7 linked regions of the Homo sapiens genome follow. The protein of the gene in region 3 purifies or fractionates together with the protein of the main gene of each other region. This does not show direct contact. Each region holds a gene or a part of one and is shown on either strand. Other genes may lie near its edges. The genes, in order: DEGS1, ANKRD28, MOB1A, THOC2, MPG, CRLF3 and SGK1.

Evidence for each region.
Region 1: the proteins of MOB1A (region 3) and DEGS1 purify together in Homo sapiens (co-immunoprecipitation; one large-scale study listed by IntAct). This does not show direct contact.
Region 2: the proteins of MOB1A (region 3) and ANKRD28 purify together in Homo sapiens (affinity purification with mass spectrometry; one large-scale study listed by BioGRID and IntAct). This does not show direct contact.
Region 4: the proteins of MOB1A (region 3) and THOC2 purify together in Homo sapiens (affinity purification with mass spectrometry; one large-scale study listed by BioGRID and IntAct). This does not show direct contact.
Region 5: the proteins of MOB1A (region 3) and MPG purify together in Homo sapiens (co-immunoprecipitation; one large-scale study listed by IntAct). This does not show direct contact.
Region 6: the proteins of MOB1A (region 3) and CRLF3 purify together in Homo sapiens (affinity purification with mass spectrometry; one large-scale study listed by BioGRID and IntAct). This does not show direct contact.
Region 7: the proteins of MOB1A (region 3) and SGK1 purify together in Homo sapiens (co-immunoprecipitation; one large-scale study listed by IntAct). This does not show direct contact.

Annotation. Positions count from the first base shown.
Region 1 is NC_000001.11:224,186,062-224,190,162, forward strand, and holds part of DEGS1 (sphingolipid delta(4)-desaturase DES1), read left to right. Parts: intron 1-3,515; coding exon 3,516-4,101. UniProt on the Homo sapiens protein: Has sphingolipid-delta-4-desaturase activity. Converts D-erythro-sphinganine to D-erythro-sphingosine (E-sphing-4-enine). Catalyzes the equilibrium isomerization of retinols.
Region 2 is NC_000003.12:15,679,480-15,683,580, reverse strand, and holds part of ANKRD28 (serine/threonine-protein phosphatase 6 regulatory ankyrin repeat subunit A), read left to right. Parts: intron 1-4,017; coding exon 4,018-4,101. UniProt on the Homo sapiens protein: Regulatory subunit of protein phosphatase 6 (PP6) that may be involved in the recognition of phosphoprotein substrates. Involved in the PP6-mediated dephosphorylation of NFKBIE opposing its degradation in response to TNF-alpha.
Region 3 is NC_000002.12:74,165,007-74,169,107, reverse strand, and holds part of MOB1A (MOB kinase activator 1A), read left to right. Parts: intron 1-2,000; coding exon 2,001-2,094; intron 2,095-3,756; coding exon 3,757-3,890; intron 3,891-4,101. UniProt on the Homo sapiens protein: Activator of LATS1/2 in the Hippo signaling pathway which plays a pivotal role in organ size control and tumor suppression by restricting proliferation and promoting apoptosis.
Region 4 is NC_000023.11:123,621,292-123,625,392, forward strand, and holds part of THOC2 (THO complex subunit 2), read right to left. Parts: intron 3,379-4,101; coding exon 3,250-3,378; intron 2,901-3,249; coding exon 2,769-2,900; intron 2,681-2,768; coding exon 2,496-2,680; intron 2,419-2,495; coding exon of another isoform or gene 2,353-2,418; intron 1,993-2,352; coding exon 1,814-1,992; intron 1,570-1,813; coding exon 1,467-1,569; intron 297-1,466; coding exon 1-296. UniProt on the Homo sapiens protein: Component of the THO subcomplex of the TREX complex which is thought to couple mRNA transcription, processing and nuclear export, and which specifically associates with spliced mRNA and not with unspliced pre-mRNA.
Region 5 is NC_000016.10:76,945-81,530, forward strand, and holds the start of MPG (DNA-3-methyladenine glycosylase), read left to right. Parts: upstream 1-1,280; 5' UTR 1,281-1,365; coding exon 1,366-1,389; intron 1,390-2,194; exon of another isoform or gene 2,195-2,348; coding exon of another isoform or gene 2,349-2,387; intron 2,388-2,480; coding exon 2,481-2,756; intron 2,757-4,586. UniProt on the Homo sapiens protein: Hydrolysis of the deoxyribose N-glycosidic bond to excise 3-methyladenine, and 7-methylguanine from the damaged DNA polymer formed by alkylation lesions.
Region 6 is NC_000017.11:30,793,556-30,797,656, forward strand, and holds part of CRLF3 (cytokine receptor-like factor 3), read right to left. Parts: intron 3,844-4,101; coding exon 3,756-3,843; intron 2,783-3,755; coding exon 2,605-2,782; intron 118-2,604; coding exon 1-117. UniProt on the Homo sapiens protein: May play a role in the negative regulation of cell cycle progression.
Region 7 is NC_000006.12:134,168,592-134,172,371, reverse strand, and holds the end of SGK1 (serine/threonine-protein kinase Sgk1), read left to right. Parts: intron 1-55; coding exon 56-179; intron 180-639; coding exon 640-735; intron 736-1,193; coding exon 1,194-1,349; intron 1,350-1,456; coding exon 1,457-1,546; intron 1,547-1,936; coding exon 1,937-2,104; 3' UTR 2,105-3,116; downstream 3,117-3,780. UniProt on the Homo sapiens protein: Serine/threonine-protein kinase which is involved in the regulation of a wide variety of ion channels, membrane transporters, cellular enzymes, transcription factors, neuronal excitability, cell growth, proliferation, survival, migration and apoptosis.

The sequences.
Region 1 (4,101 bases), on a different chromosome or scaffold from region 3:
GAAGGCTGAGGCGAGAGGAACACTTGAACTCAGGAGTTCGAGGCCAACCTGGGCAACATGGCAAAACCCCATCTCTACCAAAAAAAAAAAAATTTAATTAGCGGGACATGGTGGCATGTGCCTGTGGTCCCAGCTACACAGAAGGCTGAGGTGGGAGGATTGCTTGAGCTGGGGAGGTAGAGGCTGCAGTGAGCCGTGATTGCCCCACCGCGTTCCAGCCTGGGCAACAGAGTGAGACTGTCTCAAGAAAAAGAGATGAAGGAAGTGAGAAGGTGCTGATTGATACTTACCTCACACTGAGCCTTTTTTCCCCCCACAGACTTATCACTGAACCATTTCACTGGGAAAGTAAAAGGACCACATATTTCTTGGCCGGGCATGGTGGCTCACGCCTGTAATCCCAGCACTTTAGGAGGCTAAGGTGGGCGGATCATGAGGTCAGGAGATCGAGACCATCCTGGCTAACACGGTGAAACCCCATCTCTACTAAAAATACAAAAAATTAGCCGGGCGTGGCGGCAGCCACCTGTAGTCCCAACTACTCAGGAGGCCGAGGCAGGAGAATGGCGTGAACCCGGGAGGCAGAGCTTGCAGTGAGCTGAGATGGTGCCACTGCACTCCAGCCTGGGCGACAGAGTGAGCCTCCGTCTCAAAAAAAAAAAAAAAAAAAAAAGAAGGACTACATATTTCTCAATGAAAATACAGTGTACAATGTTTTCCATGCAGGTGTAAATACTAACTCATGTTCTGTTTCAGGGTGGGAGATGGAATAACCTGTAGAAAGAATCTTTAGATTTGTTTAAATTATACACAAATGATAAGAGATCTTTCTGAAAGTATTGACTTTTTGGCGGGGGAGGGAAGGGGCCTGATAGAACAACCAACAATTGTACACTTTAAGTTTACATTTAGAGTTCACATTAAAAGTTCATTTACAAGGCATCTGTTTGAAATTCGTGAGGATGAGCTGGGCTGGGTGGCTCATGGCTGTAATCCCAGCCCTTGGGTGGCTGAGGTGGACAGGTCACCTGAGGTCAGGAGTTCAAGACCAGTCTGGCCAACATGGTGAAACCCCGTCTCTACTAAAAATACAAAAATTAGCTGGGTGTGGTGGTGGGCGCCTGTAATCCCAGCTACTGGGAAGGCTGAGGCAGGAGAATTGCTTGAACCCAGGAGGCAGAGGGTGCAGTGAGCTGAGATCTCACCATTGCACTCCAGCCTGGGCAACAGAGCGAGACTCCGTCTCAAAAAAAAAAAAGAATAAATCACAAGAAATGGTTCCTTCACTGTTATACTTTAACATGATACAGCTTTTTAATGTTTTATTTTTTGAGAGAGAGTCTCACTGTGTTGCCCAGGCTGGAGTGCAGTGGTGTGATCATAAATTCTTGGGCTCAAGTGATGCTCCCGCTTCAGCATCCTAAGTAGCTGGGACTACAGGCTTGTGCCACCTCACCTGGCTAATTTTTTTTATTTTTGGTAGAAATAGAATCTGTTTGCCCAGGCTGGTCTTGAACACTGGGCCTCAGGCAGTCTTTGTGCCTCAGCCTCCCAAAGTGCTGGATTAATGGTGTGAGCCACAGCACCTGGCCAATAGCTTTATTGAGATTATAATTCAACTATCATGATTTATTCATTTAAAGTGTACAGTTCAGTATTTTTTAGTATATTCACAGAGTTGTGCAGCTGTCACCACCATATAACCTTAGAACATTTCATCATCACCAAAAGAAACCCTATACTCATTAGCAGTCCCTCATATCCCCTGCTTCTACCTAGGTAACCACTAATCTACTTTGTGGCCTATAGATTTGCTTATTCTGGACATTTCATATACATGAAATCATAAAATACCTGATCTTTTATGATTGGCTTTTACTTAGCATAATATAAATTTTTTTTTTTTTTTAATTTGTAGAGACAGGGTCCTGTTATGTTGCCCAGGCTGATCTTGAATTCCTGGGCTCAAGTGATCCTCCTGCCTTGGCCTCTCAGAGTGCTGGCATTATAGGTGTGAGCCACTGCACCCAGCCATTAGCATAATATTTTAGCTGGGCACAGTGGCATGCTCCTGTAGTCCCAGCTACTAGGGTGACTGAGGCAGGAGGATCACTTGAGTCCAGGAGTTTGAGGCTGTAGTGAGCTATGATGGCATCACTGTACTTCAGCCTGAGTGACAGAGGTAGACCCTGTCTCTAAATATTTTAAGGTTCATTAAAATAATATATTTTCAATAAAATAATATTTCAATAAAATAATATTTTAAGGTTCATTCATGTTATAGCATATGTCAGTGTATGATTCCTTTTTCTGGCTGAATAATATTCCTTTGTATGGATATACCAGGTGTTTAACATTTTGAGGAACTGCTGTACAGTTTTCCAAAGCAGCTGCACCATTTTATATTCCCACTAGCAAAGTATGAGGGTTCTAATTTCTCCACATCCTTGTTTTTACCTACCTTTTTTTATTATAGTCATCCTAGTGAGTGTGAGGTGGTATCTATGGTTTCAGTTTGCACTTTCCTAATGACTAACGGTGTTGAGCCTCTTTCATGTGTTTCTTGACTGTTTCCGTATCTTTTGGAGAAAAGTGGGTTCAGATCCTTTGCCCATTTTTTAATTGGATTATTAGTTGTAAGAGTTCTTCATATATTCTGGATATAGGTCCCTTATGAGATACATGATTTGCAAACATAACCCCGCTTCTGTGGATTGTCTTTTTACTTTCTTGACAGTATCATGTGCAACAGAAAGTTTTTGATGCTGTCCGATTTCTCTGTTTTCTTTTGTCACTTGTACTTGTTATAGTATCTAAGAAACCACAAAGGCCATGAAGATTTATTTCTATGTTTTCTTATCAGAGTTTTATAATTTTCTTATAAATTTGGGTCTGTGATCTGTTTTGAGTTCATTTTTGTGTATGGTGTAAGGTAGGGGTCTGAATCCATTCTTTTGCCTGTTGATAACAAGTCGGTCTAGCACCATTTGTTGAAAGGACTGTTCTTTCCCTGATTATATTGGTAGCCTGTAGTATTGGTTTTTATATACTATTACAATTTTGGGAAAATTCAGTACAGAATTACTTGGAGCATGTTGATTTGTCTGAGAAAACTGTGAATACCAGTTTCATGATTTTAGGGTAACTACAAAATGTATATTATATTCTATCCTTTGTCAGATGTGTTAATTTAATCGTTTTATATAAGGTAAGAATGCTGTACCTCTGTCTAAACACAGAAATAACATGTATTTTAATATAAAGAATGTGGAACTTCTAAACTTTGAGGCTAATTTTTCCTGCATAAATTCTCAAATTATTGTGACATGATATTTCATAACTTTACTAGTAGAATCCTTCCCTGTGTTATTAAATATCCACTAAAGTCTCTAGTAAAGGGAATATGATTTACAGAACAAATTTAATGTGTTAGTTTAATTGGTGTTAATTTAATTATAATTGGTGAACTATTACATACTTTTCTTAGTTCCTGTTTTTTTGTTTTTTCTTTACAGCAAAGTATCCAGAGATAAAGTCCTTGATGAAACCTGATCCCAATTTGATATGGATTATAATTATGATGGTTCTCACCCAGTTGGGTGCATTTTACATAGTAAAAGACTTGGACTGGAAATGGGTCATATTTGGGGCCTATGCGTTTGGCAGTTGCATTAACCACTCAATGACTCTGGCTATTCATGAGATTGCCCACAATGCTGCCTTTGGCAACTGCAAAGCAATGTGGAATCGCTGGTTTGGAATGTTTGCTAATCTTCCTATTGGGATTCCATATTCAATTTCCTTTAAGAGGTATCACATGGATCATCATCGGTACCTTGGAGCTGATGGCGTCGATGTAGATATTCCTACCGATTTTGAGGGCTGGTTCTTCTGTACCGCTTTCAGAAAGTTTATATGGGTTATTCTTCAGCCTCTCTTTTATGCCTTTCGACCTCTGTTCATCAACCCCAAACCAATTACGTATCTGGAAGTTATCAATACCGTGGCACAGGTCACTTTTGACATTTTAATTTATTACTTTTTGGGAATTAAATCCTTAGTCTACATGTTGGCAGCATCTTTACTTGGCCTGGGTTTGCA
Region 2 (4,101 bases), on a different chromosome or scaffold from region 3:
GTTAAATCTGTTGCTCATTGAACAAGCTAGTTTAGTCTCTTTGTTTTTTACTACCTTAAATCCTTAACCAAAACAGTTTTGAAAACTATAAAACCTTTGGGGTTTAACTTCTCTTTTTCCCATTTCTACTCGCTAAGGCAAGTAGAAATGAGTGTAGTGAAGTGGCCAGAGACTAGTACTCATACTAGAACAAAGAAGATACTGTATTTTGCCATTGATGTTTGATTTGTTTCTGTAATGTGACTTGACATTTTACAAGTATAAGGAAAACCCAAAATATCTAATATAGTGGGAAAATATCTACAATTGTGAGTTGTGTTTCTGTAAAAAAGTCAGTGAGATAAAACTGTTCAGAAGCAAAGACTTACTGCTTGGTTTTTAAAAAAATATATCCCTGAAGATTAACCATTGGAAAAATCACACAGTGAGATATTTTTCCTCAGGAAGAGCATTTAGTTGTAAATGTACTGCTGTAACTGTCCTTTGGAGAGTTGCTTTCTATTACAGTGTTTGTTATCAGATCTATATGTAGAACATTTTCCCTAAAGTGAGTTCCTACTCTATCACTGCTAAATTTAGACTCTAAGCACGTTTTGTGCAAGAGACAGAATTTTGCAAGAACTGCATGCCTGGTTGCCATTTAAAGATCATAACAAATGTGTCTGATTTTCAGCCTGTAGCAAAATTGTGGTGATGCTGAATTTGAGCTGGAAGGAATTTAATGTGTGTTGGCTATATGCAATAAGCGACTATATAGACAGCCTAAAATTAATACCATATTTATAGCCAAAAGCCCGTTTTATAATTTGGCATTCTGAAAGTAGAATATGTAAAATGGTTTTTACTTTAACTAGTAATTATTGTACAGCTGGAAAGAAAAGTGGAAGCATGCCAACAGAACAGAAAACAACCTCTTAAAATTAAAATGAAATGATGGCCAAGTTTTAGAAAAACACTGGCTGTAGATACTAAAAGTTCACAATTTCAGTTTATATAGTCATTCAATCACAGAACTTAAGAATACTTATTATTCCTTTAAAAAATGTGTTCATTTTTATGAAGCTCTAAACATCCTCAGACTAGCCTCTGAAACTCAGGAGGACCCAGTTTACCATCCTATCTATCTTTCATAAATGATGATAGAAAGTTATGAGATTGTCTGCTTGATATCACCCAGTAATGATTTCTGGAGGTCACAAAGGGGCCCCACTGTTCCCTTTTCTCAGTCTGTACTCAGATGGTGAGTGGTTCTCAAACCCTTTGGTCTCAGGAACTATGGATTGATACTGACTGTATTAGAAATTGTAATTGAGAAATTTTTAAATACTTACTGATTTATTTAAAAATAATGTCTATTACATGTTAACATAAATAATCTTTTTTTATGAAAACTATTTTCCAAAAGTATTTTCTTTTTAGTGAGAAGAGTAGTACATCTCTTCATAGCTAATTTAAGAGAATAGTTGGGTTCTCATCTGTGTTTTTATTCATATTTTTTTTGCGTCACCCCAGGGTTCCCTAGGCCACACCTTAAGAACCCATATACCTGGAGAATGAGGGGCTCTTAAGTCAACAATGGACAACTTTCCATTGCTGTATCTTAGTAATGAGTTAACATTCAGAACGATGGCATTAAAGGAGTTTCTCAACCTCAGCACTATGACGTTTTGGGCCAGATGATTGTTGCAAGGGACTCTCCAGTGCATTGCAAGATGTTTAGCAGCATCATTGGTTTCTACCCACTAGATGCCAGTTGCACTGCCCCACCTTCAGTTGTGATAAACAAAAATGTCTGTAGGCATTGCCACATACAATATCTGCTGATGGGCAAAATCCACTTGAAAACTACTAGATTAGAGAAAAGAACTGACAAAAGATGGAACACAATTACAGGTTTTTCTAAAAATTACTTTTCCACAATTATAGGGTAAAGTTTAAGCTGATTAAGTTTGAGTAATTTAAAAAGAAAAGAAAATATAACATCACTTTGGTAGGCAAATATTAAACCATGAAAATGTATAAAGAGGCCATGTAAGAATCTTATTCCTAAAGTAGATCCCAAATGACTAATGAAATAAAATAAGCAACATTTTATTTGTAGTAATTAGGGTATTAAATTAAAACCCTGGCTCTGGAATTAGGGTAAGAAAATTTGAAATTTGGATTTTTCTGTTTTTGAAGTTACTGTTAAAAACTATGGACCAGATATTGATGAACAGTCAATACAGTCAGCCCTCCATATCCATGGGTCCCCCATCGGTGAATTCAACTGAATGTCCATCAGAAATATAGTTAGGCTGAACATGTACAGACTTTTTTTTTGTCATTATTCCCTAAACAATACAACAACTATTTATATAGCATTTACATTGAATTAAGTTGTAAGTAATCTAGAGATGACTTAAAGTATATGAGAAGATGTGCATAGGTTATACACAAATAAACCATTTTGTACAAGGGACCTGTATAAGGGACTATGGAGTTTTGCTGTCAGTGGGGAGTCCTGGACCCAATCCCCCAAGAATACCAAGGCTGGATACTTCTCCTTTACCACAGCAATATCACTTTGGTAGGAAATTGTCCTACAAAAATACTTCCTAAAATAAAAACAAAATGTTGGCCGTGGTGGCTTATGCCTGTAATCCCAGCATTTTAGGAGGCTGAGGCAGGCAGATCACTTGAGCTCTGGGATTCAAGACCAGCCTGAGCAACATGGCAAAACTTCATCTCTACAAAATATCAAAAAATTAGCCAGGTGTGGTAGCCTTGCACCTGTTGTCTTAGCAACTCAGGAGGCTGAGGTGGGAGGATCACTTGAGCCCAGGAGGTTGAGACTGCAGAGAGTCATGATCATGCCACTGCACTTCAACTTGGGCAACAGAGCAAGACCCTGTCTCAAAAAATTGTTTTAATAAAATAAAAAAATACCAGAATGTTTCATTACAGCGTTGTTGATAATATCATGAAGAATTTTTTTAAACTAGCAATCACTTTAAAATCCATAATTAGATTAAATAATTTATGATATACTTTGATACTGTGAAGCTCTTCAGAACATTAAAGAATAAGATTTTAGCCGGGCATGGTGGCTCACACCTGTAATCCCAGCACTTTGGGAGACTGAGGCAGGTGGATCACCTGAGATCAGGAGTTTGAGATCAGCCTGACCAACATGGTGAAACCCCGTGTCTACTAAAAATACGAAAAAAGCTAGCTGGGCATGGTGGTGGGCGCCTGTAGTCCAGCTACTTGGGAGGCTGAGACAGGAGAATCACTTGAACCCAGGAGGCAGAGGTTGCAGTGAGCCAAGATCGCGCCACTGCACTCCAGGCTGGGCAACAGAGTGAGACTCCATCTAAAATAATAATAATAATATTTCATATATGCTATTATGGAAGGATATGTGTAGTTAATATTAAGTAAAAGGCAAGTTGCGGAATTAAACATCCCATTGCCATTAAGAAAAAAATAAAAAAATAGCACAGTCATTTCTCGTTTGCTGTTGAGGATTGGTTTCCAGGACCCCTTGTGAATACCAAAACCAACAGGCGCTCAAGTCCCTTATAGAAAATGGGATAGTATTTGCATATAACCTATGCACATTCTCTGCTATACTTTAAATCATCTCTGGATTACTTATAATAACCAATGTAATGTAAATGTTATGTAAATAATTGGTATGCTGTATTTAGGGTATATGACAAGAAAAAAAGTCTGCTCTGTTTTTTTTTTCCCCCAAATATTTTTAATTTGGGGTTGGTTGAATTGATGGATGCAGAACCCACGGATACAGAGAGCCAACTGTATGTATTTTGTGCGTGCAGTTGTATATGCCTAGAAATTTTCAGGAACTACTGGTGGCTTAACAGCTACCAATGGTTATATTCCAGAGAGGGGATCTGGGAGATGGGATGAGGGAGAGACTTTTACATTTTTCCTTTAAACACTTACATGTACCTGTGATTTTTGCCAGTATCTCCTTTGAATTTTAATACCTGGTTCTTTACACCTATTTAGGTCACGAGACATGTGTAGAACTGCTTTTAGAACAGGAAGTTTTCCAGAAAACGGAAGGAAATGCTTTTAGTCCATTGCATTGTG
Region 3 (4,101 bases):
TTATATTTTTGCAAATCTTATTTAATGTCTGGCTTAATAGACACCTGGATTCTTATATCCGTTTCTGTATTCAGTCTGTTGTGATATTACACATCATGGAGCCTCTGGAAAACACCATTGTGCCCTCTTGAGAGAGTAAGAGTGAAAAGAACAATTAAAATGGTTTGACCTTACAGATCCTCCCTCAGATAGGGGATTCCTGGACCACGTTTTGAGAATAGCTCTTCTAGACCAAACCAACTTCCACCTGGGCATATTTTTTGTTTTGAGTGAATATTGAATACCTAAGTGTTACTTTCTTAGAAACATGACTAAGAGGAAGATTTATAAGTGAGGGAGTTTTGTATAAAATTCCTTTTACAAGATAGCATTTTAAAAAAATCTATTTGTTTTTTAAGAAACTTGGAAAATACCTAGTTGTTTTTAGGTACTTCTTTAGACAGGAGACTAAAACTTTTTATTTATTTATTTTTTCGAGACAGGGTTGTCCAGGCTGGACTGCAGTGGTACCCTCACAGCTCTCTGCAACCTTGAACTCCTAGTCTCAAGGGATCCTTCCACTTCAGCGTCCTGAGTAGCTGGGACTACAGGCGTGTGCCACCATGGCTAACTAATTTTTTAAAATTTTCAATAGAGACCGGGGTCTAGCTGTGTTGCCCAGACTGGTCTCAAATCCTGGCCTCTTAAAGTGCTGTGATTATAGGCGTGAGCCACTGCACCTAGCCTAAAACATTTTTTGAAACTTTCCAAGGCTTATGTGGTTCTCTTTGCATAGAGTATACTCACTCAGTAAAGTTTATTTACTCACCCCCTGCCTCTTCCATTTTATTCTGGATCTAGCTGAAGCTCCCTCAGGAAGTACCCCCTGACTACTTCCAACTCTTCATGACTTTGCCTTTTCTCTGTAGCATTTATCGTTGGCCTTTGGATCCTGTCTTCTTATATCTTGTACTATTATTGCTATTTTTATTTTGAGACAGTGTCTCTGTCACCCAGGCTGGAGTGCAGTAGCACCATCACAGCTCACGGCAACCTCAGCCTCCTGGGCTCAAGCAGTCCTCTCGCCTCAGCCTCCTACATAGCTGGGACTGTAGGTGTGCACCACCACGCCTGGCTAATTTTTTAAAAATTTTTGTAGAGATGGAATCTCACTCTGTTGCCTAGGCTGGTCTTGAATTCCTGGGCTCAACCAGTCCTTCTACCTCAGCTTCCCAAAGTGCTGGGATTACAGGCATGAGCCACCATGCCTGGCCATATCTTATATTATTCATCTCTTTTAATTTTGTCCTTTCTGTTAGCTAGAGACTCCAGGGCAGGGGACTTTATCTGAAGTATTTTGTCCTCAGTATGCTGTAGACCTCAAAAACAAATGTTTATGATTAATTAGATCTTTTAAATGCCTCTGGATACAGCTGGTGCACCTTCTCCCTCACAGTATATTCCACAACATGTTTTGTCTCTTTCCTAACACAAATGGTATTATCTGGTCCAAAGTGGTAAACTATGGATTTTTCATTCCCTTGGATGTAATCATATTGTATATCCAAAGGATATAATAGTCATCGTTAAGTTAGAATTATCTCCAGTATCTTATTTTCCTGCTGTTACATGCGAGTGGATCATGAGGTCAGGAGTTCAAGACCAGCCTGGCCAACATGGTGAAACCCTGTCTCTACTAAAAATACCAAAACAAAATTAGCTGGGCGTGGTGGCATGCACCTGTAATCCGAACTACTTGGGAGGCTGAGGCAGGAGAATTGCTTGAACCCGGGAAGCGGAGGTTGCAGTGAGCCAAGATTGCACCAGCCTGGGCAACAGAACAAGACTGTTTCAGAGAAAAAAAAAAGTGTAGTATACTACAAGTTACAGTATCATTGGATTATTGAATGTCTCAAGGGTTCAGCTAAGAACCTAAATGTATTGTCTGTTTTTCCTTCAACTGGAGGTCTCATATTTTGTGTTTACACAGACATTTTGACACAATTCTATTATCTCTGCAGCTGTGGATTTCTTTAACCAGATCAACATGTTATATGGAACTATTACAGAATTCTGCACTGAAGCAAGCTGTCCAGTCATGTCTGCAGGTCCGAGGTACATATACTGCCTATTATATAGGTGTTTGGATTAGTTTTACTTTATCACCAATTGATAGAAATTAAACAGTTAAGATTTGTTATCCGTTTGTGTGAAGGTGATTCAGTTTTATTGGTTCTTGACTACTCACCTGTAAGCTTTTAGTTATTGTGTAATTTTAAAATTTTATTTATTTTGAGACAGAGTCTCGCTCTGTTGCCAGGCTGGATTGCAGTGTGTGATCCTGGCTCACTAACAACCTCTGCCTTCCGGGTTCAAGCGGTTCTCATGCCTCAGCCTCCCGAGTGGCTGGGATTACAGGCCTGTGCCACCACTCCCAGCTAATTTGTGCATTTTTAGTAGAAATGGGGTTTTGCCATGTTCCCCAGGGCTGGTCTCAAACTCCTGGCCTCAAGTGATCTGCCCACCTCGGCCTCGCAAAGTGCTGGGATTAAAGGTGTGAGCCACTGCACCTGGCCAGCTATTAGTTATTATTAAATACTTTAGTATGTGGGTACTCCCTGTTTTCATTTTTATGTTGCATCATAGTAAGTCTGAATGTTTTATTATAGGAATAAACAGAAATTTGAGTTACATTTGTCTTGAATTGCAAACATTTTATTTTTTCAATTTTATTAATAACATTTATGTTTCCTGTTTCTAGTTTTTAAATGAATTTCTTGGAAGAGTTTTTAGTTGATCTTTTAATATTTGATTATTTTTTCTTGTGCTTATTTAGTATTTAAAGCAGCACAATTTAGAAGTAATTATCTGGCTTGAAGATGCTAGATTTAAAAACATTTTGACTTTAATAAATTTCAAGAAATACTGAAAAAGATGGAACTCTATCACTCATAATATTAAGTCCATCATATGATGGGATTAATGTTTGCTGTGTTTCCTTCCAGTTTCTTTTTTTTTTCTTATAATAAATGACTGATTTTATGTGATGATAGATGTTATCAAGATGTTTGCTTCTTAGAAAAGATTGTCCTTTCTGACTTTGCTACAAGTGTAAAGGAAAAAAGATCCCTAATGAGTTTGTAGTTCTATTTTTATTATAATATTTTAGGAAGAATGTTTTTATTTTATATTGTGTTAAGTTTTATTATTCAAGCTTTAAAAGAAATGAAAATAAACAGGAAAATTAAACTTACCTATGGCTCAAATGCTTTACACAGTGATGTTTTGTATAACTCTTGTTAATCCTTCTAGCTCGGCAAAGGTAAGGGGGGAAAGTATGCATGCCTAATGTATATCTCTAACACCTGGCCCCCAAAACAGAGTTTTATAATCTTGGGTCCATTGATGATAATAAATTGATGACCAAGAATCTCAGAAGAATGTAGTGGATCCATCGGCTCCATGCCCAGCCCTCAGCAACCTTCTGCTTTACAGGAATGCAGTTCCTTTGTGTTTCCCAGGGCTGTGTTGTTAATAAAACATCTATCCTGGCATTGCCTCCTGCCACATTATCTCCCTTTTTTCTTCCAGTTATAACTGTCACTTTCTGGATAATTACATAGGGAACTCACAGTAATCTTCAGTAGAACTTAAGGTGATTTATTAAAGTTAGATGTAACTTCTATTGACAAAATGTGAATGAACCTGTTTTAATCACAACTTGCACATTTGTTAATATTTTTGAAAAATTTATCAGTAAAACATTTTTCTCTTCAGATATGAATATCACTGGGCAGATGGTACTAATATTAAAAAGCCAATCAAATGTTCTGCACCAAAATACATTGACTATTTGATGACTTGGGTTCAAGATCAGCTTGATGATGAAACTCTTTTTCCTTCTAAGATTGGTGAGTTAACATTGTCGAAGTATTCTTTCTTTTTTTAAAATTTTATTTTATTAATATAAATAGAGTTGGGGGGGTTTGCTGTGTTGTCCAGGTTGGTCTCAAACTCCTGGCCTCAAGTGATCCTCCTGCCTTGGCCTCCCACAGTGCTGGGATTACAGGTTTGAGCCACCGTATCCAGCCTGTTTCTCTTTTTGAATGATAAATCTGCTCT
Region 4 (4,101 bases), on a different chromosome or scaffold from region 3:
TCTCTCTTTCCCTTTCTTGAGTTGATTTTGATTCTGCGTTGGGGACAGTGGTCTTAAATTTCTCATCTTTAGCTTTTTCTTCCTTCTTGAATTTTTCTTTCTCTTTGTCAGACTTCGGCGTTCTTTCCTTGGTCTCTCTTGCTTTTTCATCTTTATTTGGCCGCTCTTCCTTTGGTTTTTCTTTACCATCTTTACCAAGTACCCTGGCCTCTGGAGTAGTAGCTGGAGTCTTTTCTTTTTTCTCTTTTTCTTTCTCTTTCCCTTTTTCTTTGTCATTTTCTTTAACAGCTTTGTTGCTTAAGAATAAAAACATGGGATTTTAACACAAATAATCATAAAATATATCCTTTGATATATGATAAAATATATCATAAAGGGTTTCTTACTAACTTCAAAAATACTAGAACTAAGGGGGAGTCCTTTGAAAACTAAAGGACAACTTTAAGACAAGGAAAAAGGAAGAAGTAATGGTCGGGTGCAGTGGCTCACGCCTGTAATCCCAGCACTCTGGGAGGCTGAGGAGGGTGGATCACTTGAGGTCAGGAGTTCGAGACCAGCCTGGTCAACATGGTGAAACCCCGTCTCTACTAAAAATACAAAAAACTTAGCTGCGCATGGTGGCGGGCACCTGTAATCCCAGCTACTCTGGAGGCTGAGGCAAGAGAATCACTTGAACCTGGGAGGCAGAGGTTGCAGTGAGCCAAAATCACACCACTGCACTCCAGCCTGGGTGACAGAGCAAGACTCCTTCTCGAAAAAAGGAAGTATTTCTTTATCCAGTAAATCATAAACAAATTCATTAATTGCAGATTTAAAAGATGTATTAGCCGGGCACGGTGGCTCACACCTATAATCCAGCACTTTGGGAGGCCAAAGCAGGCAAATCACGTGAGGCCAGGAGTTTGAGACCAGCCTGGTCAACATGGCAAAACCCTGTCTCTACTAAAAACACACAAAAAATTAGCCGGGAGTGGTGGCACACGCTTGTAATCCCAGCTACTAGGGAGGCTGAAGCACAAGAATCGCTTCAACCCACAGCAATCCCTCTATCCTAAAATATTTGTTTAACTTCACACCTACATTCCCCTGAATATCCCAGAAGGAGAAACAAAGTCGTTATACAAGCATAACTATACAAAACATAATTAGGATGTAAAGCGTATCAGCAAAATAGGGTACATACAAAATTTCAAAGCCCAACATAAATGACTTTTCACATTACTCAACAACCACTCCCCTTCTACTCATGAGGACTCATAGAAGAATTTAGAATTATGAGGGCCAGGTGCAGTGGCTCATGCCTCTAATTCCAGCAGTGTGGAAAGCCAAGGCAGGTGGATCGCTTGAGGCCAGAAGTTCGAGACCAGCCTGGGCAACATTGCAAGACCAACCCCGTCTCAAAAAAATACATAAAAATCATTTTTAAAAAGAATTTAGAATTATGACACATGGCACAGTGTTCCTACCTGTTAGAGCCACTATTTCCATTGCTTGAATTCCCTTTAGGTGTGGTACTAGAAGCTTTATTAACAGCTTTCACACCACACTGAGATCTCTCCCTTGATTTATCTGAAATAAAAGTAAGGTTTTATTTAACAAGCCCCTAAATGTAAATAAGCTACAATTTCAGAGCAAAATGATTAGAGAATAATTAGAAAGAAACAGCAAGCTGATTACTTCTTAACGCTTATATACTCCTATCTAGGGAATAAAAAGTAATACTAAGCCAGCATTGTACTCGTTCTGTGATACAAAACATTTCACTTTGTTGAAATAAAATATATTACTTATAAGTTTCTACAAATAAGCATACCAGTCTCCTCAGTACTGCTTTCATCCGATTTAGATGCACTTCCTATTGATGATGAAGAAGGCCCACCACCAGGCCCATTTTGCACACTGGCAACTGCATTCCTCGGAGGGGGGTCTTTGTGATGAAACTCATTTTCAGGTATCATGTATGACTTTCTACTTTTCAACTGCCCAGAGTAGCTGAAAGTCGCACAAAGTGTTTAAATATACAAACACAAATCAAAAAACATAAACATGAGGTTTTTAAGAATAAAATTAGCAAGTTATTCATTCTACTATGTGGTTCTAGAGAATTAAAAAATACCAATTTTTAATAAGTTCTTGAAGGTTTTTATAGAACGCCCAGCTTTCTTAAAAATTACAATTTCACTATAAACTAATCCTTAAACTAAGATGGCTTTTTTTTTTTACTCTTGAAGATCTGTTAACTATGATGATAAAATTATATTTCCTCCCAATCAAGAAATATTATACATGACTTTAAAAAAACTATCATCCAGTATAGACCGGAAGTTGATAATCAGAAGTGGTAACTCTCACCAGCCTGTGGAAACATGATCGCATAATCTCCCATAATCTCCTGAAGGCAGAAGATAAACTTCAACACTGTAAAACATTTTAAAGTCTTCAGAATCCTTCTGTCATCTAGTCTTGTAAATCACATTAAAATATAATTTTGTTACCCCATAGCCAATGCATATAGATCTGGCCTCTTCTCTTTTTCTTCTTGGCAGATTTTGTGTACTCTTCTTTCCAAAGCTTGACCCAGATTCAAAACTTTTGGGTACCAAGGAAGTATTTTTGTTAGCACAATCAAGATATTCCTGATGTGAGTATATTCGCCTGTTTCAAGGCAATGTACCGATGCCTACAACAAACATTTTCAGATCCATTATTATAAAAGCACAAGTATACAGAGAAAAATTTGCCTTTGAAAAATCCAATTTTTTTTTTACCTTGGTTAGTTTGTAATGCCATTTATGTACAACATGTCGAAAATTTTCATAGTCTAATTGATCAGCCTTATTTCCACCATCAAATCCAGTTGCCCGTAATATGGTAAGGAATCCTGGATAGTTTCCACATTCCTAAGGAAACAATGTTTGTCACTTTTAAAGAAAAATTATGATCCACAAAATAGCAGAAATTGAAACTTAAGTAGACTAGATCAATGTTTCCGTGTAAAAACATCATGCGTATTTGGATAGGTAGTCACAAAAAGTTCAACTTATACAAAGATACTAATTTGGAATGTCAGTTTGAGATAGAATAAAAAAGTACATAGCACATTTTAATAACAAATTAATTGTGCTTATAAACACAGTTTTACAACTGAATCTTAAACTCAGCTTCTCTTTTAAAACTCAACTATCTAGATATTAATGGATGTGGTCATTATATACATGGGTAAAATATAAGGGTTTTTATTAGTCATACCTTTTCATATGTGGCTCTATCACTATGCCACCTGGTCACAGTCTCTAACATGCAGCAAAGAAACCTTCCGTATCGACTGGCTTCATTTTCAGTACAGCTTGCAACTGTGTAAATTATGTCAGAGAAAACCTACAGGAGAAAAATGTTTAAAAAATATAAACAAATCAAGGTCAAAATCAGTTAAAAATATTAGAAGATTCTCTTACAGCAAGTCATAATAAACAGGTAAGCCTAGTCAAAATGTATATTCCCTTTATATAATGACACTGCAGAGAACTTTGGAGATTTTGGCTTTTGTGGGGAAATAATGCATTCATAAAACAACCACCCAAAACAAGAACTTTTATAAAGAAAGCTGATTTACAGTGACAAGGAAAAAAAAATTTATCATTATTATTACATAATAAGTTGTTTTTTTTTTATTACATAATAGTTTCTTAACCACTTAGCCATACATATTACTGGGTTTACGGGGAGAGTAAGCAGAGGAAATGCTGATAGAAATTAAAAATATGCAGCTGACATACTGGAACATACATTATGTTTTTTGTTTTGTTTTGTTTTGTTTTGAGACTGAGTCTTACTCTGTCACCCAGGCTGGAGGGCCGTGGTGTGATCTAGGCTCACTGCAAGCTCCGCGTCTCAGGTTCACACCATTCTCCTGCCTCAGCCTCCTGAGTAGCTGGGACTACAGGCACCCACCACCACACCCGGCTAATTTTTTTGTATTTTTTTTTTTAGTAGAGACGGGGTTTCACCATGTTAGCCAGGATGGTCTCGATCTCCTGACCTTGTGATCCACCCGCCTCGGCCTCCCGAAGTACTGGGATTACAGGCATGAGCCACCGCACC
Region 5 (4,586 bases), on a different chromosome or scaffold from region 3:
GGGACGGCTGGTCAGAGGAGGAGAGGCAGTTGGAGACCAGGTCCTGCCCTGTTAGCCTTTCTGTAGGACCAGGTGTCACACTCATCTGAGGGCTCCAGACACATGGCCTGTGCGTCTGTCCTGCCCAGCGTCTCCCACCTGACGCGGCCAGGTGCCCAGTTGCTCTTCAAGGCCTTTTCAGGTGCTCCTTTCCAGGACCAGGGTCACAGAAGTCAAAGCTCAGGAAAAGCCCCTCGAGGGTTTTTGTGCGGCAGAGGTGGGTTGTGGGGTGGGATTGTGCCTGCCACAGTGGAGGGGCCCTGCAGACCCAGATAAACCTTCAAGTGGCCAGAAGCGGGGGATGGCTCTGCTGGGTGCTGGGGCTGCCATGGGCCGTGGGAGCCAGCAGTGTGCCCAGCTCCCTCAGGGCCCGTCCCCTAGGCCCTTCCGTCCACTGGGCCAAGCACCGTCCCTGCCCCTCCCTAGGGGCATGGATCTGACTTGAGAGGTTGTGAGAGCTTACAGGCGCTGGGCCGTCGGGGAGGCCTCAGAAGCGTAGGACGGCTGCGCACTGCCGGGCCGTGTTCAGCCCTGGTCTGGCCTCGGCCTCTAGAGGAGGCTGCCTGCGCTCCAGCAGGCCCAACCCAGAACGTGGGCGAGCTCCCTTCAGCATCCCTGGGCGGAAAGAGGGATGGGGGCTCTGCTGCAGAGGCAGAATCCGCGCCGCTCCCTCCTTCCTTCCCCCGACCAGCCTGTGACAACCCCGGCCAGGGGCGGGGGCCTCCGCACAAGCCTGGCGTCCACTTCCTGGATAAGGACTCCCCGGCCCACTCCGGACCAGGGCTGGGGCGGCCTCCCAGGCGCTCACTCCGCTGGCACCCCACCGGAAAACACGTCTGCGGCCCGCCCCCTCCCCCAAAGCACGACCACTCCGCCCGGGCCCCTCGAGGATCCACTCAGGTTCACGACGGGCCCGTCCTCTCGGTGGTCTGACCACCGGCTGGTGGAGTGGGCTCTGGGGCCGCCAGGCGACCAGGGCGCAGGCGGGGGCGGACAGCTCATTGGGAGGGGCGCCGGGGCACAGTGCGGGGCTCGCCCCACCCCCAGGTGCCCCTTCCCCGCTCTCGCCTCGCAGGCACCGCATCGGGCCCGGGAATCGGTCCGGACCTGGCGGTGGGCGCTGGGAAGAGGATCCACCTCCACGTGGCCCGCCCCGCCCCGGGGGCGCAGCCAGTTCCCGGCGCTCACTGCCCCCCTTCTCCCGGCTTCCGTCCCCTTCTGCGCAGGCGCCGCTCCGCCCCGGTCCTAGGGGTGCTTCCGTGGTCGGCGGCTGCTGGGCTCCGCGCCGGGGTCCGAGTCCCACGAAGCCCCGGCCCGAGCCGCCGGATGCCCGCGCGCAGCGGGGCCCAGGTGAGCGCGCGCCTCGGCCGCCCCGCGGAACAGACGCGCCCACCCCCAGGCGCAGCAGCGAGCGCGGCCGCGGGAGCGGGAGTGCCGGGGACGGGCGTAGCGCCCACCGCCCCGAGGGTTCGGGGCAGAGCCAGAGCATAGGCCAAGGGCCAAGCTCGGGCCGAGAGCAGTGGCCGCAGCGCCCGGGGGCTGAACCCACGGCGCGCTGGCAGCGCGGGCCGAGCTGCGGAGACGGTCACGTCAGCGTCCGTTCCAGGCCGACTGGCAGTCTCCGTTCTACATTAACGTCAGCACTCCCGTTAAAAATAATGCATCTCTCCCATGCCAGGAGGACTTAGGTGCTGCTAAAGACCAGCCCTCCGGGTGCTGCCAGGCCGGCGCTCACCCGCCACCTTCATCTTCCCTTCTCCTTTGCCCCAGGACAGCCGAGGATGTGTGGTTAGGTTCCCCCTACCCATGGGGAGGCCAGAGGTGGGAGGCTGGCGGCCTGCTCGGTCTCAGCAGACCCTCCTAGTCCCTCAGGAGACCTTGCCTTTGCCCCACTTGCTCGTTATCCAGCCTGGGCCATGAAGCAGAGGACAGTTAGGGACCCTGAGCACGCGGTGGTCACCCCGGTGCTCACCCCTCCCTGTGTGTCCGACCTTGGCCCTGCTAAGATCCTGTGTTTTGAATTCTGGCAAGGGTTGGATGAAAGGGCAGGGCTCCAGAAACCAGCTCAGACGTTTGCTTGGGACCTGCATGATGAGTGGGAATCGGAGGGCACCAGCCCTGCTGTCCCAGGCTCAGGCCCCCATCTGCTCCCCAGGTCATGCAGCCTGGGCCCCCATGCCGTGCAGCTCGCACATATGTGGGGCAGAGCAGCCACCCTGCCCCCAGCAGCAGCCGTCCATCGTCAGACGTGATCATTTCCTGAGGCCTCGAGTGTGTCAGGGTGTTTGTGCCTCATAACAACCCACAGGATGGTCACCCCCGCTTTGCAGATGAAGAAACCAAAGCAGGTGGTCAGATCCAGTCCTTGCACTTCCTGAGCCTGACCTTACCACACAGCTGTCTCCTATTCGGATGCTTATTTATTTTTTTTCCCATTACAGTTTTGCCGACGGATGGGGCAAAAGAAGCAGCGACCAGCTAGAGCAGGGCAGCCACACAGCTCGTCCGACGCAGCCCAGGCACCTGCAGAGCAGCCACACAGCTCGTCCGATGCAGCCCAGGCACCTTGCCCCAGGGAGCGCTGCTTGGGACCGCCCACCACTCCGGGCCCATACCGCAGCATCTATTTCTCAAGCCCAAAGGGCCACCTTACCCGACTGGGGTTGGAGTTCTTCGACCAGCCGGCAGTCCCCCTGGCCCGGGCATTTCTGGGACAGGTAATGTGAACATAGCAGCGAGGGCCCTCCTGAAGTGCCTGTCACTGCAGTTGTCCCTGAACCCCTGTCCGCTGCCTGCTGGATTGGCCCTCAGTTAGTCCTCCTTGTCCTCATGCATTTAGCGGCTTTGCTCACACTGGTCCCTGCTTAGCTTCATCTCAGTTGCCTGAGGTCATCTGGGAAGAATGTAGAGATTGTCAGTGCTGCTTGCCCAGGGTGGAGCAGGGGTGCCACTGTCTGCCCCCGGCTCTGGGCATCTAGGGCAGGAGCACTTGCACCGTTAGCCTTCCTCACCGGCAATCCACCTCAGTTTTTCCACACGTGGGAACTGTGGCTGTGGCCAGTGTCGGGCTGCCCCTTCCCGCTGTAGTGGCTCACAGTGCAGTGCTGGCTTCCCAGGGCCCCTGCAGCTTAATGTAGGTCAAGGATCTGGGCTCTGCCAATCAGACTTGGAGTAAGAAGCAGGGACTGCCCAGGTCCCATCCTGGTGGGGCCTACGGTGCAGCCTGTCCCCACGAGCAGATGCTCACACAGCCGTGGCATCTTGGCTGGATCTGTTGGGAGCGAGGTGGTGGCGGTGGTCCTCGATGCCAAAGCCCCAGGCCTGCCTTTCTGGTTCTCCAGAGGCTCCAAGGCCTTCCCTTTGTCCTTTAATGAGCCTACTTTTAGGTTATAATCACCAAGAAGAACCAGAAGAGAAATACCAGTGCCAGGAGTTGGGTGCTAAAGGAGCAGACCCTAGAATGTGGGCTCGACCTCATGGAGAACAGAGAACATTCTGTCCCCATGCGGATCCTTCTAAAAGCACCTTAAGTAATGGGCATTTGTGGCCAGGTGTGGTGGCTCATGCCGGTAATCCCAGCACTTTGGGAGGCGGAGGTGGGTGGATCACGAGGTCAGGAGTTTGAGACCAGCCTGACCAACATGGTGAAACCCCATCTCTACTAAAAATACAAAAATTAGCTGGGTGTGATGACGGGCGCCTCTAATCTCAGCTACTTGGGAGGCTGAGGCAGGAGAATCACTTGAACCCGGGAGGCAGAGGTTGCAGAGAGCTGAGATCACGCCATTGCACTCCGGCCTGGGCGACAGGGCGAGACTCCGTCTCAAAAATAAAAAAAAAATACAATGGGCATTTGTGATACAACAAAACAGCACGTGTGGCAGGTGCGTCGTAGGAACAGGGCAAGGGCGCAGCATGGCATCAGGGACCACAATACGTTTGTCTCTATTCAGCATCCTTGTCAGGCCACAGTCATGCCCACTTGAGCCCATTGGTGGACAAGATGATGTCCAGCAGAGAAGAGGGTGTCTCACCCTGTGTCCCTTGGATCAGGGACAGCCCTCTGCCCTCTCCATAACCTCCTAGTGGATGCCCTTGCAGACCCCTCAGCCAGGCTTGGGTCATGCACTCATCCCTAAAAGGGTCACTGCAGTGAGTTGCCATGAAATCCCAGGCCACTCTCTGGGCTGAGGAGGGTGTGGTCTCCCCCAGGAGGCTCTGCCAACAAGGAAGAGGGGTGTGTGTTGGCCATGGGGGTGGGGAGGGGTGAGAGGCCCCAGTATCTGCCACTGGTGGAAATGGTATCAGTGAAATCCTGATCAGAAATTTGGGATGGAAAAGGAAACAATGAGAAAAGGGCTGTGGGAACCTCCTCTCCAGAGTGGTAGTTGGGCCCCCCCAGTGTGCCCCCATGGAGGCACAGGAGTGTGCAGAGTGAAGCCCCTGGAGGGGCATTCCCTCTAAGCTCCAGGGAAGATGGAACAGGGCCACCCTTTCTCCCCTGGACATGGCCTGGCCAAGCCTGGCCTGTTCACTTCTGTCCTCAT
Region 6 (4,101 bases), on a different chromosome or scaffold from region 3:
GTCTATGTGCAATACTATGAATTCAGTTTCAGAACCTACATATACATCCTCAAAATGATTTGAAGTACATTTACGAAACTGGAGCCTGTAATCTTGGGCTGTAAAGTCATCATCCACCTAGGGAGAAAAGCTTTATGTTAGGTAAAAAACAGAAAATGACTTCTCTCAGCATCACTGCTTAAAAATTTTGAACGGAGCCATTTTGGACCAAGCAGACAGGCCCACATGCTGAATATGGGGTATTCTTGGGAAGGCCATAGAAAATATGCCATCACATCATTATCTCCCTTCTTTTTTTTTTGAGAAAGGGTCTCACTTTGTCACCCAGGCTGTAGTGCAGTGGCGTGATCTCGGCTTATTGCAGCCTCCACACCCCGGGTTCAAGCCATCCTCTTCCTTCCACCCCACAAGTAGCTGGGATTTCAGGTGCACACCACCATGTCCGGCTAATTTTTTGTATTTTTTGTAGAGACTGGGCTTCACCATATCTCAGATCTTTAACTCCTGAGCTCAAGCAATCTTCTCGTCTCAGCCTCTCAAAGTGCTAGGACTATAGGCGTGAGACACTGCGCCTGGGCTCCCTTCTTTTCTTTATTGAACCATGTGTTCTGTATTTCCCAGTCTGATATAAAAAAGTCTGCCTCCTTTGAAGAAATGGCATGTTTTTTAATCAATGCCAAAGATAAAACATTCAAGATTCAGTAAGTCTCCCACAACCATACATCATTCATAATAACCAAGAGATAATTAACATACAGTATACAGAACCCCCATTAATTTTTAGGGGTCCTGCATATATTCTGTATGTTAATTAGCCACCCAATAGAAAAATGGGTAAAAGACATAAATAAGCGTTCTACAGGAGAAGAAACATAAATAGCCAAAAATGTATATTATGAATATTCAACCTAATTTGTACCTAATTTGTAATATGGCAAATACGATCTAAAACCACAACAAGGCCAGACATGATGGCTCATGCCTATAATCCTAACACTTTGAGAGGCCGAAGCGGGTGGAGCACTTGAGCCCAGGAATTTGAGGCCAGCCTAGGCAACACAGCAAAACCCCATCTCTACAAAAAATTACAAAACTTAGCTGGCTGTGGAAGCACATGCCTGAAGTCCCAATTACTTGGGGGCTGAGGCGGGAGGATCACTTGAGCCCAGGAGATTGAGACTGGAGACATGATTGTGCCACTGTACTCCAGCCTGGGTGACAGAGTGAGACCCTGTCTCAAAAACAAACAAATAAATAAAACCACAACAAGGTACATTTAGGCAAAAATATAAAGTCTCACAATGCCAATTATTGGTCAAGATATGGAATAACAGAAACTCATATACTCCTTGGAAGGCTAAATTGATAGAATCATCTTGTGGAAAGTTTGTTATTACCTATCAGCGTATGGATCCAATACTCTAAGAAGACCTCATAATTTTACACCTAGGTAAATATTAATATTTTACAAACTTCACATATGTCCATAAAGAAACACAAGTAAAAATACTTATAGCAAAAAACTGGAAATAACTAGGTCCACTGATAGGAAAAATAATAAAAATGGAATGACAGTCCTGTTAGAAAATAACAACAGCATGTTTATAAAAAAAGAAAAAAAAATTTCCTTTTAATAAAATCTCAGCTGGGCACAGTGGCTCACACCTGTAATCCCAGCACTTTGGGAGGCCGAGGTGGGCAGATCACCTGAGGTCGGGAGTTTGAGACCAACCTGACCAACATGGAGAAACTCTGTCTCTACTAAAAATACAAAAATACTAAAAATACAAACTTAGCCAGGTGTGGTGGCGCATGCCTTAATCCCAGCTACTTGGGAGGCTGAGGCAGGAGGATTGCTTGAACCCGGGAGACGGAGGTTGTGGTGAGCCAAGATCGTGCCATTGTATTCCAGCCTGAACAACAACAACGAAACTCTGTCTCAAAAAAAAAAAAAAAGAAAATGTCAGCCAGGCGGAGTGGCTCACACCTGTAATCCCAGCACTTTGGGAGGCCAAGGTGGGCAGATCACCTGAGGTCGGAGGTTGCATCGCTGCACTCCAGCCTGGGCGACACAGCAAGGCTTCATTTAAAAAAAAAAGGCCAGGCACGGCGGCTCACACCTATAATCCCAGCACTTTGGGTGGCCGAGGCGAGTGGGTCACCTGAGGTCAGGAGTTCAAGAACAGCCTGGCCAACATGGTGAAACCTCGTCTCTACAAAAAATACAAAAATTAGGCAGGTGTGATGGCAGGTGCCTATAATCCCAGCTACTCAGGAGGCCGAAGCAGGAGAATGGCTTGAACCCGGGGGAAGCGGCAGGCGGGGGAGGGCATGGAGGTTGCAGTAAGCCGAGATCACGCCACTTCACTCCAGCCTCGGTGAAAGAGCAAAACTCTGTCTCAAAAAATAAATAAATAAAATAAAAATAAAACTGGAAGAGCTACCTCAGTGTTCCATGTGACTTCATTTTAACTGTAAAGTAAAAGAGATTTTTGTTTGAGAAGAAAAGAATGTATTTAAAAGTAGTCAACGAAAAAATCTGAAAGGCCTCCAAATCGCAAACCCATAATGTGGAAGTCATTTCTAGAATTCTGAATTACATACCTTACACCATCGTACAATGATGCCTCCAGGTTTCTCTATTAGTTCTTCTATCTGTACTGGTGGGCGAGATGCTACTGTTCCATGCTTAAAAATGTGGTCTTTCACTATGTTAAGAATTGAGTCATCCAACTGAGCAGATAAACAAGGCACATCAACCAGTAAAGGTACTTCTGGTAAGCTGAGGAAACAAAGCTCATGTGTTATGAGACCTCTAACTGAGAGTTAAAAAATACAAGAAATATTTTAGAGCAGTCACATGCTTGAAAGATCCTGAAGCCCCCAGTAATTAATTCTCATGGCAGTAGGGGATTTGCAAGATGTTACACAAAGATTCTCTTTTCAAATAAATATAAGTAAGACAGAAAATTGGTAGGATCATAACTGTCCAGTTTAAGCCAAAAGATCTGGTTTACTGGAATATGACTCCATTTCAACAATACATTGATAATTTCTAAAATTTAACAATTCTTTTATATATTGGATTGAAAAAATGTGTAGTAATACTATACCAAGGATTATAATCACAACTATTTCATTAGTAACAGTGGTAATGGGCAGTGAAACGCTTTTTTTTTTTTTTTTCAGACAGAGTCTCACTCTGTCCCCTAGGCTGGAGTGCTGTGGTGCGATCTCAGCTCACTGCAACCTCCACCTCCCCGATTCAAGCGACTCTCTTGCCTCAGCCTCTCGAGTAGCTGGGACTTACAGGCGCACGCCACCATGCCCGGATAATTTTTTATTTTATTTTATACTTATTTTGAGATGGAGTCTTGCTGTTGCCCAGGCTGGAGTGTAGTGGTACAAACTTGGCTCACTGCAACATCTGCCTCCTGGGTTCAAGCAATTCTCCTGTCTCAGCCTCCCCAAGTAGCTGGATTACAGGTCCATGCCCGTCTAATTTTTATATTTTTAGTAGAGACAGGGTTTCAACATGTTGGCCAGGCTGGTCTCAAACTCCTGGCCTCAAGCAATCCACCCGCCTTGGCCTCCCAACGTGCTGGGATTACAGGTGTAAACCACCACGCATGGTCTGAAAACCTTGAAATATATATTCTCTATCTCCCTTAATGAGAATCTTGAACAGAGGGAGGAAAAAAGCAGACATAGTTTAAATGCTTAAAAGTAAGTCAAAAAGGCACAAACTCTTTTACCTGTCCAACTGAATGTGCGAGGCCTTTTTGGTAAAGCTCCACAGTTTCTCATTCTCTTCTCCCACACCACCAAGCATGGCGATTTCACCTACAATCAAGAATAAGAGAACTAGAACAATGAAAATGGTCACATATAAAGTAATCAACACAACTCATGTCTGGGTGGGTCTCTAGCGTTCTTGCAAATAAGTTCTTAAGTGATGCCACAGTCAAATTCCCAAAAAGTTAAAGTAGAAACTATTTTAGACGTGACTCTAAGATCAAATCCAAGAGGAAAAGGGATATACAGTGGCAACATTTTGCCAGAGATGAAAAATCTATCTACTCTATACAAGGAAATCAACCA
Region 7 (3,780 bases), on a different chromosome or scaffold from region 3:
ATCTTATGAAGTGAAATTAACTTGTGCAACTACTTTTCTATTCACTTTTTTACAGAGACTTAAAACCAGAGAATATTTTGCTAGATTCACAGGGACACATTGTCCTTACTGACTTCGGACTCTGCAAGGAGAACATTGAACACAACAGCACAACATCCACCTTCTGTGGCACGCCGGAGGTAGGCGCTGTCTTGGTTTGGTGCCTGGTTTACCCCCGCCTTCCAAGAGAGAGATGTACAATCATGCACTTAACTACCAAAAAGAGTAAACTCCTCTCAGAGACTTCTTAATACAGTTCAGTGCAAATAAAATACATTTGCTGTTTGATGTAGCATGAGAAATCCCAAGTCCTTCTGTTCCTTTACTGAAAAGTAGCTGTTTGTAAGTAAGATCTGCATCATAAAAACTTTCTAAATCCCTAAGTAAGAGATATCAAGTGCCCAGCAGTTTCCTAAATGTCAGTACACATAGGTAGCCAGTCACCCTCAAAAAGTCCAGCAGTTTTATCAGGAAGGAATCTAAAGATATCTATCTTCCAAGCTGGCTCTGGGTCTCTCAGCTTTTTCAAACTAAATGTGTGGTCGTGGGATTGCTTGCTTTCGCAGGTTCTAAACGCTGTTTCCCTGGTCTGTTTTTCAGTATCTCGCACCTGAGGTGCTTCATAAGCAGCCTTATGACAGGACTGTGGACTGGTGGTGCCTGGGAGCTGTCTTGTATGAGATGCTGTATGGCCTGGTGAGTGGCACATTGGGAACCATGGAACACTGCCTGCTCCCTACAATATTGCCTTCACACAGCCCATGCTTGGCCATGGTGTCTTGCCCTTACCAGTACGCTTATCAAAAGCAGCTAAGAGGCATATTGGTTATTTTATAGTTCATAAGAATAATCACTTACCTGGTTCTTTTGTGCATTTCACATTTTACTAGATAGGACCACATTGAACCTGTGTGGTGGTGAAAAACTACCACTTATTAACATCTACCCCCTCACCCTCCACACACACACACACAAACACACACACGGGTTGCAAAGTAGACACTTAAATAGCAAGGGAAAAGAAAGCATTGAGGTGGGGAGAGTTTCTCAAATCGAGCCTAATATTTATTGCCGTTTATATCTTTTTCTCTACTGGTAATGTGTGCCATATGAAACTTCCAATTAAGTCTAAAGTAATTTTCCCCTTCTTTCAGCCGCCTTTTTATAGCCGAAACACAGCTGAAATGTACGACAACATTCTGAACAAGCCTCTCCAGCTGAAACCAAATATTACAAATTCCGCAAGACACCTCCTGGAGGGCCTCCTGCAGAAGGACAGGACAAAGCGGCTCGGGGCCAAGGATGACTTCGTGAGTGATGTTTTCCTGTCCTCCTGGGCCGGCCGGGACGTGCACTAGACCTCCCTGCCCTTATTGAATGCACCTGTCTAAATTAATCTTGGGTTTCTTATCAACAGATGGAGATTAAGAGTCATGTCTTCTTCTCCTTAATTAACTGGGATGATCTCATTAATAAGAAGATTACTCCCCCTTTTAACCCAAATGTGGTGAGTATCTGTCTCTCTTCTAAGTATAGAGAAGCCCAAAGGGCATTTATTTTAATTCAGAATTGTCTGGGGGAGGGTTGGAAGGAATACATTGGCAGATGTTTTCTCCATAAACCTGTTATTTTACCTACATAAAAAGCACATTTTTGTGTCCCAACAAGGCTCCCATAATTTTTAGACACATTTATCAATTCGAAGCACCAAAAGGCAACAAGTGAACATTATTCTTATGTTTAACTGTGTGTAGCCTTTTGAGATTTTGTGCTTGAAGTGGGTGATTATGGAAGTTGATATAAGACTTAAACTTGGTATTTAAAGCCTGGTCAAGATTTCCCTGTCCTGTGTCTAGTGTGAGTTCTTGACAAGAGTGTTTTTCCCTTCCCGTCACAGAGTGGGCCCAACGACCTACGGCACTTTGACCCCGAGTTTACCGAAGAGCCTGTCCCCAACTCCATTGGCAAGTCCCCTGACAGCGTCCTCGTCACAGCCAGCGTCAAGGAAGCTGCCGAGGCTTTCCTAGGCTTTTCCTATGCGCCTCCCACGGACTCTTTCCTCTGAACCCTGTTAGGGCTTGGTTTTAAAGGATTTTATGTGTGTTTCCGAATGTTTTAGTTAGCCTTTTGGTGGAGCCGCCAGCTGACAGGACATCTTACAAGAGAATTTGCACATCTCTGGAAGCTTAGCAATCTTATTGCACACTGTTCGCTGGAAGCTTTTTGAAGAGCACATTCTCCTCAGTGAGCTCATGAGGTTTTCATTTTTATTCTTCCTTCCAACGTGGTGCTATCTCTGAAACGAGCGTTAGAGTGCCGCCTTAGACGGAGGCAGGAGTTTCGTTAGAAAGCGGACGCTGTTCTAAAAAAGGTCTCCTGCAGATCTGTCTGGGCTGTGATGACGAATATTATGAAATGTGCCTTTTCTGAAGAGATTGTGTTAGCTCCAAAGCTTTTCCTATCGCAGTGTTTCAGTTCTTTATTTTCCCTTGTGGATATGCTGTGTGAACCGTCGTGTGAGTGTGGTATGCCTGATCACAGATGGATTTTGTTATAAGCATCAATGTGACACTTGCAGGACACTACAACGTGGGACATTGTTTGTTTCTTCCATATTTGGAAGATAAATTTATGTGTAGACTTTTTTGTAAGATACGGTTAATAACTAAAATTTATTGAAATGGTCTTGCAATGACTCGTATTCAGATGCTTAAAGAAAGCATTGCTGCTACAAATATTTCTATTTTTAGAAAGGGTTTTTATGGACCAATGCCCCAGTTGTCAGTCAGAGCCGTTGGTGTTTTTCATTGTTTAAAATGTCACCTGTAAAATGGGCATTATTTATGTTTTTTTTTTTGCATTCCTGATAATTGTATGTATTGTATAAAGAACGTCTGTACATTGGGTTATAACACTAGTATATTTAAACTTACAGGCTTATTTGTAATGTAAACCACCATTTTAATGTACTGTAATTAACATGGTTATAATACGTACAATCCTTCCCTCATCCCATCACACAACTTTTTTTGTGTGTGATAAACTGATTTTGGTTTGCAATAAAACCTTGAAAAATATTTACATATATTGTGTCATGTGTTATTTTGTATATTTTGGTTAAGGGGGTAATCATGGGTTAGTTTAAAATTGAAAACCATGAAAATCCTGCTGTAATTTCCTGCTTAGTGGTTTGCTCCCAACAGCAGTGGTTTCTGACTCCAGGGGAGTATAGGATGGTCTTAAAGCCAACCTACGTTCCAGGCCTTTTTAGCAGCATTTTATGGTGTCTGTCATTCATAAATCCATCCAAGGAAATCCTTTGCAATTTACTCATCTTGCAAGGATTGCTATGAAGTAATGCTTCCTGTATTTATTGCCTGTCCTGTGAAGTTGGACTATTTGTCCTGACATTTGGCTTGTCTTCAGTTACAGGTAATTCTTTCCAGAAATATTTGAAAGCCTACTCTGGGCTCTATTGCGAGTGCTCAGGATATCGTAGTGGACAAAGCAGACAACTTCGCCCTTCCAGAGCCTGATGAAGAAGGCCGACCTAAAGCAGTTAGTTGAGATGGAAATTGAGAAATAGTCTGTGAAGTTTAGGAGAATGCCACACAAGAGGGTGAGAATTTTTTTTTTTTTTTTTTTTTTTTTTGAGACACGGTCTTACTCTGTCGCCCAGGCTGGAGTGCAGTGGTGTGATCTTGGTTCACTGCAGCCTCCGCCTCCTGGGTTCATGTGATC